2 separate regions of the Homo sapiens genome follow, and region 2 is linked to region 1. The links come from fine-mapping of genetic effects on gene expression. Tissue or cell type: pancreas. Region 1 holds a variant in brackets; the other region holds the start of a gene. All regions are shown on one strand. Distances are from middle to middle.

What was found. PIP is the estimated chance that this variant, and not a neighbour inherited with it, causes the effect.
Region 2: SIX3 starts here. The variant in region 1 is the best candidate, but not a certain one, in a credible set for the expression of SIX3 in pancreas (GTEx, PIP 0.87).

What each region holds. Positions count from the first base shown.
Region 1 is chr2:44,962,636-44,966,882 of GRCh38, reverse strand. No RefSeq gene overlaps it. Among named protein-coding and RNA genes, the nearest start is that of SIX3-AS1, 23 kb to the right of the region's middle. The variant C/A (reference allele first, on the strand shown) is at 1,917.
Region 2 is chr2:44,939,081-44,943,327 of GRCh38, reverse strand. It overlaps SIX3 (SIX homeobox 3), which reads right to left and starts at 1,626. Exons shown (of 2, transcript NM_005413.4): 1 at 418-1,626. The coding sequence starts at 1,223. It overlaps SIX3-AS1 (SIX3 antisense RNA 1), which reads left to right and starts at 1,450. Exons shown (of 2, transcript NR_103786.1): 1 at 1,450-1,618; 2 at 2,495-3,174. It overlaps LINC01833 (long intergenic non-protein coding RNA 1833), which reads left to right and starts at 4,129. Exons shown (of 2, transcript NR_147195.1): 1 at 4,129-4,247. RefSeq lists enhancers at 1-583, 1,666-2,192, 2,961-3,460, 3,461-3,962.

The DNA of each region.
Region 1 (4,247 bases):
GGCTGGGTCTTTTCATACAGTTTGACATTAATCCTGAGTCTTTCAGAAATGGTGAATTTAAAAAGCACTCCGCCTTGATAGTAATGAACACATTACATTTTTCTATTGATGTAATAGGTCTGCATTTGTACATCACCCAGGCAGCCCCCTAGATTTCTGCAGAGCCCAGCACTTTGCTGGCTCCCCACCACCCTCACTGAGGCACAAATGCTTGCAAAGAATGTTCCTCCCCAGGAGCGTCAGCAATGGCTCTGGCCTCTAAGTCGTCGGATGTCAGATTTCTTTTCGGAGATGATTATTTGCGTTGTCATTTATCCCGTGTATGTGGCTCAAATTTTACAATATATGTTACAATATATCCCTCTGTCCTCTGTCCTGACTACCAAGGCCAACTGAAGAAGAGGGGCCCATCTCTGAAGACTGGAAGCTGCTCCTCCAGCTGGCTTGGGATGTAGGTGGCCTTGTCTGCAAAAAGAGAGAGGGATGAAATCAGTGGGTTCTCGGGCTTTTGCAGCCCTCGATCTCCTGTGACAGACAAGAGCCTCTCTGCTGCTGCTACAGTTGTCACAGTGGAAACCCCTTCCCCAAAAGGCAAGTTGTCACCAGCCTAGCTGCCTGCATGGGGGCCTGGGTGACGAATGTCTTGCAATTATTCTTCAGTTGATGCCAGAAACAAAAAGTATATACCCCACACCAGTCCCCAGGACCCCTCTTAGCAGGGTGAGTCTTGGGGAATGCAGGCTCTGGGCCCATCTCTTACCACATGCCCTTCACCCACCCCACCCCTATTTCCCTGCAGATGAACCAAATTAAACTGAACAGCCTCAAAGGGAGAGGTTGCCAAAAGACAGTCTGAGGGGAAATGGGAAGAAGCAATCCCCCATTCTGCTTTAGGGCTGGGGACAAAAGGGTTCCTTCTTCCTTGAATACTGTTAACCACAGGCCTTTTGGGGGCCCTGCTGGAGGAGACATCCCATGGGCTCTCCCCTAAATCACATGAGATGACTCATCTCCACCCACATCAGCCACCCTGCTTTCCACACTGTAGAAACTTCTCTGTTCTTCCCAGACAACTGAATGCCAATATTTCTTAAGTTTCTTTCCTGCCAATAAATTCTGTTTTGTTCCAGGGGAAACAGGGTTCTACCATAAATGCTTTATTTGTGTGTGGTATTTACGGTGTTCGTCCACCTGTATATGGTCAGTGCTTTCCTTTTCACATCCAGCCAGCCATCCTGGGTCTTCCTGCAGGACGGACAGTCCAGAGACACTGAAACAGGCCCGTGCAGGGGATGGAGAGGATGTCCCCTGGCACTAAGACAGACCGCATTTGACCCCACTGTTCTCTGTCAGTCAATGGGGAAGGCACGTTTTAACAAGAACGGGGGTCCCTCTCAGGTTCTTTGAGGTGCCACCACTCCTGCTCTACCCACAAACCTAACACCTGCTCAATATCATGCCCATAAGCTATGAACACTGGGGACTAATCGAGAAGAGAGGTGAAGGGGAAACTGAGGCAAGGGCCAAGGCCAGGCCAGTGGGTATTGCTGCTTCCAAGGCAGCTGGGGAGGAGAGATTCCATTTCCTGAGCTAAGCTTGTTCCATTTCAGTTTGAACAGATGGAAATATAGTTCAATGTTTCAACATCATTTGCCTTTCTCGTGCTAAAATATTGATAAGTGCTGCCCGGGCTGATGCCCCCGCAGTTCCCAGCAGTAACTGGAGCATGATGTGTACTGAAGTGAGACATGGCAAAGCCTTTAACGAGTGTTTAAAATTCCTGGAATAATGCTCAACACTGGCTCAGCTCATTCGGCTCCTGAAAACTGCCCCCCCCCCCACCGCCCCCCTGTCGCCCCCTAATCGGCAGGAGGAGTGCGAGCACAGCCCGGCCCCCCTGCTGGTGGCAATTAGTG[C/A]GGCAGCTGCTCGTCTTCAGGACAGCAAACAATGCAGGGGGTGCCTGCATCTGCCGAGGCGGCTGAGCCAGGCAGGGAGGCTGGAGCACTGGGGAGGCAAGGACATGGGGAGCTGGCTCCTCCACCTGCAGGGGGCTGTCACACGGAACACAGACCCCAGGGAGAGGGAACACTGGGCGGGGCTGTCCAGAAAGGCAGATGAGGGAAGGGCAAGAAAAGGGGGAAGAACACCAGGTTTGGTGGCTCATGCCTGTAATCCCAACACTTTGGGAGGCCGACGTGGGTGGATCACCTGAGGTCAGGAGTTTGAGACCAGCCTGGCCAACATGGTGAAATCCCATCTCTACTAAAAAAAAAAAAAAAAAAAAAAATTAACTGGGCCTGGTGGTGTGTGCCCATAATCCCAGCTACTCAGGAGACTGAGGCAGGAAAATCATTCAAACCCAGGAGGTGGAGGTTGCAGTGAGCCGAGATCATGCCACTGCACTCCAGCCTGGGCGACAGAGCGAGACTCCATCTCAAAAAAAGAAAGAAAAGAAAAGGGAGAAGAAGGGAAAAGAGGAAGATGAAGAGGGTGGGGACTTAAGAAGGAAGGGGAGAGGAGGAAGAGAGGAAGTAGCCAGGAACAGCAAATCCCCTGGGAAGAGCTTGCCAAGCTCCGATAAGAGAATCCAATATGTGGCTGTAGAAAGGGAAAAAGGACCCTCAAGAGGGCCTCAGCCAGCGGCATCCCAGTCCTAAGACACCTCTCTGCAAGTTGCAGCCATGACAAAGGCCCCCAGACCCAGAGCTGAGAGGAAACCTACAGTGTGGACCTGGGATGTCACTTCCAAGCTTTAGAACAATCCAGGCTTCCCGGGCAAGGCTCTCCTGGGATCACAGTATCCCCCTTGTGGAGATCAAGTGGTCTAATTGTGGAATGTTAAACTTCTCACATACTTTAAGGTGCTGGGTGTTTGGTTCACAATTTTTGAAAACACTTGGCTGGGTGCGGTGGCTCATGCCTGTAATTCCAGCACTTTGGGAGGCTGAAGCGGGTGAATTACTTAAGGCCAGGAGTTCAAGACTAGTCTGGCCAACATGATGAAACCCCATCTCTACTAAAAATACAGAAATTAGCCAGGCATGGTGGTGGGCACACTAGTCCCAGCTACTTGGGAGGCTGAGGCAGGAGGATCACTTTAACCCGGGAAGTGGAGGTTGCAGTAAGCCAAGATCATGCCACTGCACTCCAGCCTGGGTGACAGAAAGATAATCCAACTCAGAAAAGAAAGAAAGAAAGAAAGAAAGAAAGAAAGAAAGAAAGAAAGAAAGAAAGAAAGAAAGAAAGAAAGAAAGAAAGAAAGAAAGAAAGAGAAAGAAAGAAGGAAAGAAAAAGAAAGAAAGAAAGAAAACTCTTTATAGATCTTTGTGAGATTGTTCAGAATAATGTTTTCCAGAAGGCCTATTTGAATCAAGAAGACAATGTCGGCTTTTTTCAACAGTGACCAGACTGTGAGAGAAAGCAAGGCTGTGCCCCAGAAAGCTGTGGGGTAGCCCCACTGGAAGGAATTCCAGGCTGGTGGGTGTATGGGACTTAAGTCAGTAGAACTCAGAGCCACTAACCGAAAGTATAAGCATTATTATTATACATGATTGTAGATTGATTGATTAACATTTACAACAGGAAAGAAAAAATAGGAAATCTACAATGGGTTGGAAAGCAAGACACAACAAACTCATTACTTACGCTCTCCCTCTGCCTTCCACAAAATAAAACTCAATGAAGTAATGTAAATATAACAATCTTATTTTCTGAGACCAAAAAAAGGGGGACATGTGATCTGACACACAGGATGACATTTATGGAAGCAAACAAGATGCAGTATAAAATTGAGGGTGTCAGGCCAGGAAGGTCCAGGATGTGAATACAGAGAGGCTGGGGCAGCCTGTGGCTGCTCTGATTGGACAAATCTTCATAGAGGAGGAACTGTCTGAGGCCAGGAAGTGCTGCATGGTCTGGGGGTCTGGGGAAGCTGGCAGCAGCAGCATCTTGTCCTCCATCCATAATCAGGTCAGCTGGGTGGGGAATGCCTGGCCCGGTGGCACAATGATACTCCTATCTATACACATTAGCTCCAGGCACCTTTCCTCACCACCGCGATGTTTTACCAGCTGGCCCCCGTCCAGCCACCCTTACAAGGCCAGCCAATCGTCCAAACCATTTCTATGTGGGCTGTTTCTGGGACCAGCACAGTCCCTCTGGGCTGAGGCCTTGGCAATGGGTCTGTCCCTCTGGGAAGGGGGCTCTGTCTGTGATTATTCTCCAAGTTCTTCAGCATCTGTCCATTG
Region 2 (4,247 bases), 24 kb after region 1:
ACGCTAGTGGATTTCTCTCGGGGTTTTGCAACGCACAGAAATAAGAACCAGATGGCAAAGAGTGCTTTCCTTCCCTCCCTGTCTCTAGGCTCCAGAGGATCGCCGAGCTGGCGGCAGGGCTGAGGAGGCAGGCACGGGTGCAGCGCAGGGCTAAGTCTCCCAGGGGCTGCGGGTACTCGGGTCGCAAGCACACACTCTCTGCCCTGACGAAAGCCCCTCTTGGTCAAAGCAATCAATACACCCACAGCCAGCCCGGCCCCCTCTTCCGCGCGTCCCGGACAAGCGGAAACTTTCTCCGACTGGCCAGGAGTCACGGCTTCCCTGGCTCTCAGCGGCCGCTCCGCTAGCCCCATCTCAACCCCTCTCCCCTTCCCAGGCCTCTGAGGCTGTAGCCAGGCCGCGGGCCCCGCCACTAACCTGTTCTTGGCCGCCGCGGCGCGGTCGCGCTGCCGCCGGTTCTTAAACCAGTTGCCTACTTGTGTGGGAGTGAGGCCGGTGGCCTGCGCCAGTTCGCGTTTCTTGCTGGGGTTGGGGTAGGGGTCCTGTAGGTACCACTCCCGCAACAGGCTCCGAGTCCGCTCCTTGAAGCAATGCGTCTTCTGCTCGCCGTCCCAGATGGTGCGTGGCAGCGGGAACTTCTTGCGCACGCGGTACTTGTCCACCGGGCCGAGTGGGCGGCCGCGCAGCTTCTCGGCCTCCTGGTAGTGCGCCTCGAGCCACATGGCCTGCAGCTTGCCGTGAGACTCCTTGGTGAACTTGTGGTTCTCAAGGATGTGGTAGAGGTCGCGGAAGTTGCCCGTGTGGAAGGCGACCACGGCGCGCGCGCGCAGGATCGACTCGTGTTTGTTGATGGCCTCGCACGCCCCGGGGGCCACGGGCAGCGACCAGAGGAAGCGGCCCAGCCGCTCGATGTCGCCCGTCTCCTCCAGCGTCTCACAGACGCTGGCCACCTGCTCCGGCGAGAAGTTGAGGGTGGGCAGCTGGAACATGGACAACTCTTCCGGGGGGGCCCTGGAGCCGCCGCCGCCGCCGCCGCCTGCTCCGCCAGCACCGCCGCCTCCCGCACCGTTCCCGCCGCCGCTGCCGCCTCCCGCGCCGCCGCCGCCTCCCGCACCGTTCCCGCCGCCGCTACTCGCCAGAAGTATGGAGCGGTGGTGAGAATCGGCGAAGTTTGGCAACAAGAAGTGGGAGGAATAGAGGTCTAGGGGGGAGCGGAATACCATGGACTGACCTGAGAGGAGAGGAGAAAATTCAGGGAGAGGAAGAGAGAGGGGAGGAAGAGGAGGAGAGGGGCGATGAGGACCAGGAGGAGGGAGAGGAGAGGGGGGAGGAGGAGAAGGAAAGGAGGGGGGAGCAGGAGGAGGAGGGAGAGGAGGAAGGGCGTAAGGGACACCCACACCCCACACACATCCACACACACACACACCCGCGCAGCCACATAGAGAGGGAGGTAGGAGAGCGGCCCGGTGCGCGCGCGCAGAGAGAGAACCCGAGACAGAGAGGGAGAGGGAGAGGGAGAGAGGAGAGGGAGAGCCAACCACCGCCGAGTCAAGATTCAGCGATTCCACCGCAATCGCCCTAATGACAACAGCCTCATAATATCTCCCCTAAATCCACAGTGAGTGCAGCATTGAAACATTTTGTTTCGCTTTTCTATTGGTCTGTGGCGTGTCGTTGTGGCGTTGCCACGGCAACCACTGCCAATCACTGTCAGCCCTGCCAATCAATACCGAGAACGTAAGGACGGTTTTACCACTTAGCCAGAGGGCGGGGGGAGGGGGAGAGCAGGGAAGGAGGGAGAAGTGGGGGGATAAAGAGAATTTTTTTTATCTTTGCAACTCTTAATCTCGCTACCTCCCCCTCCTCTCTTCTCTCTTCTCCCTCTCTCTCCTCTTTTCTCTACCGCTGTCTCTGAGACTTCTTCTTCCCTTTTTCCTAAAGAAGTTGATCCAGAAATTCGAAAAGCCCTGGGCAGAGTTGTTGAATGGGATGTGCAATTAGAGAGGGGATTTTGTTGGGAGGCAAGAGGGTCCCCCAGGCTCCACATAGTCCAGGTCGGCAGGCAAGGAAAGACGGCTGACCAGCCCAGCGGGCGCGGTTTGCACATGGTTTGCACGTCGGGCCGCCTCTTTCTGCCTATGTGAGCACTAATAGTGGCAAGGAAGAAAGGAGAGATGAGATCATGGGGCCCACCAAGCACCGACCTTGGCCCAGCGGGCCGTGGCGCCAGCCGGGGATCCCGGATTCCGAGGGTATCTGGCGCCAGGGAGCCTGAGCCCAATTCCCAGGGTGCTGGAGGCCGCTCTTGCCTCCCCCATCGGTGCCCATGGACCGCATTCACCTCAACTCCCTCTTCATCAATTAGGCTTCTCTTTACTCCCTCCCCGGCCAAGGAGCCTCGATTTCCCCCACCACCCTGTATTTTAAAATAACAGTCCAAACAGTACACTTCTTTCCATCTTAAGAAGCAACTCAACTCTTTGTTTCTTCCCAGAATTCAGCTGCCTCTCTGAGGAGTGGTGGAGGAGCTGCGGGAGCCGAGAAGCCCAAGAGCCCTCTGGACCCAGAAAAGTCCTACAGATGCCCACTCCTCACCACACAACAGAAGGAGCTCTGGTCCTGCCTGCCAGCCCCAGAGGGCACTCAAACTTTGGAGGCCAGCCACCCGGATGAAGTGAATAAGGCCTGAAAATTGCTTGTTTGCTCGTATTGTAAAATAATAATAATTACCATTATTATTTTTAAACTGTCTAATTTCTCTAGGGAAAGTAACATCGAAAGCCTAAAACAGACGCCAAAAGGCCCATAGAACACAGAGGGCCCTCTCTGCCTCTGGCCACCACAGCCCCTAGGCCAGGCATGGGTATTTATTCTTAGGTATGTTGCTTTTAAGAAGCTGTAATCAGCATCTTGAGCCGGGCCTCCCTTTGTGAGGCTTCTGTAACTATGGAAGTGTGATTTACGCAGATTTGTCGGGGTCAGAGACGTCTTTCCCTGAGCACTGTGTATATTTAGACAGGACTCGGTTTGGTGTTAAAAAGTGTATATGTTGAATGGATTCACACACAGTAGCCAACAATGACCACATTGTCGGCCCGTGTACAACGCGTATTGAAACGCAGCGCCCAGACTTCAACTAATCTGCCCTCAATAAAGCTGAAATAATTATCCTAAGCTGCCTTTCCAGAAGAAAAATCATTGAGGAATTCAAAACTTTTTTTTTTTTTTTTTAAAGATCTTTTCTGCATTCCGATGCAGATCTGGGGGCAAGGCGCCGTGTCCACACCACTTTGGTGATCTCAATGAGGGAAGAGAGAAAGAGAGGTTGAGAGAGAATTTAAATGGGAAACCTAACGTGACTGGGGCTGTGAGTGTCCCAGCCCCTAAACCCCGAGCTGGAGCCCTGCTTAGGCCTTGACTCCCGCAGTGCCAGGCCTCTGAGGGCCGGGGAGAAGAGCAAGCCGACAAGTGCAAGCCTCCTTGGAGGATTCCGGGCGGCAGGGAGGCCCTGGGTCCGGCGAGGGGCCAATACTGGCTCACTTAGCCAGAGACAGCCGTGGGGTAGCAGGTCTTCAACACGACGACTGGGGCAGAAAAATATTCCTCCAAAGGGAAGACCTGCCAAGCCCCATTTCAGTGCTCTCTCCACTCCATATATATTTCCTCTCCTCCTGGCCATGAGTCCTTCTCCACGCAGCTGAAAGCTCTGGGCGGTCATTCACTGAGGGCCCAGAAAGAGCCCAAAGGTTGGGACACAAAAACAGACACTTCATGTTTTCTTCCCGATCCCTTTCTCTCGTAGGGGAAGGATTATAGGCTGAAGGGTGGGAGGGGGAAGGGGCAGGAGGAGGAAGCGGGGGAGGAAGGAATGAAAAAGGGGAGGGGAGTGGGTATTGTGCCGCGTGTGGGGGGAGAATTCCTACGGGTGGGTTTCCGAATATTGTGTTCAACTTTTTGAAAGCAGCTCGTGACCCCGAAACTGCATCCCCCGGAGCCGGGGACCCAGGCGCCGGGCGGGCGGGTGAACCCGGTCAGTCCCCTCCCCGTCCCCGAAACCCCCGCCTCCGGGTGGTGGCGACCTGGCCTCTCCCTGCCACTGCCCGGCCAGCCCCGGAGGGAGGCTGGGCAGGTGCTGCGGGCTCTGCCGAAAGCGCTGAAATAAAAAACCATCGCCACTCAGGGAGAACTGAGGCAAGTGGGGCTGAGACTCTGGCGACACCCCCGCCCCCCAGCCTCTGCCCCAGCGC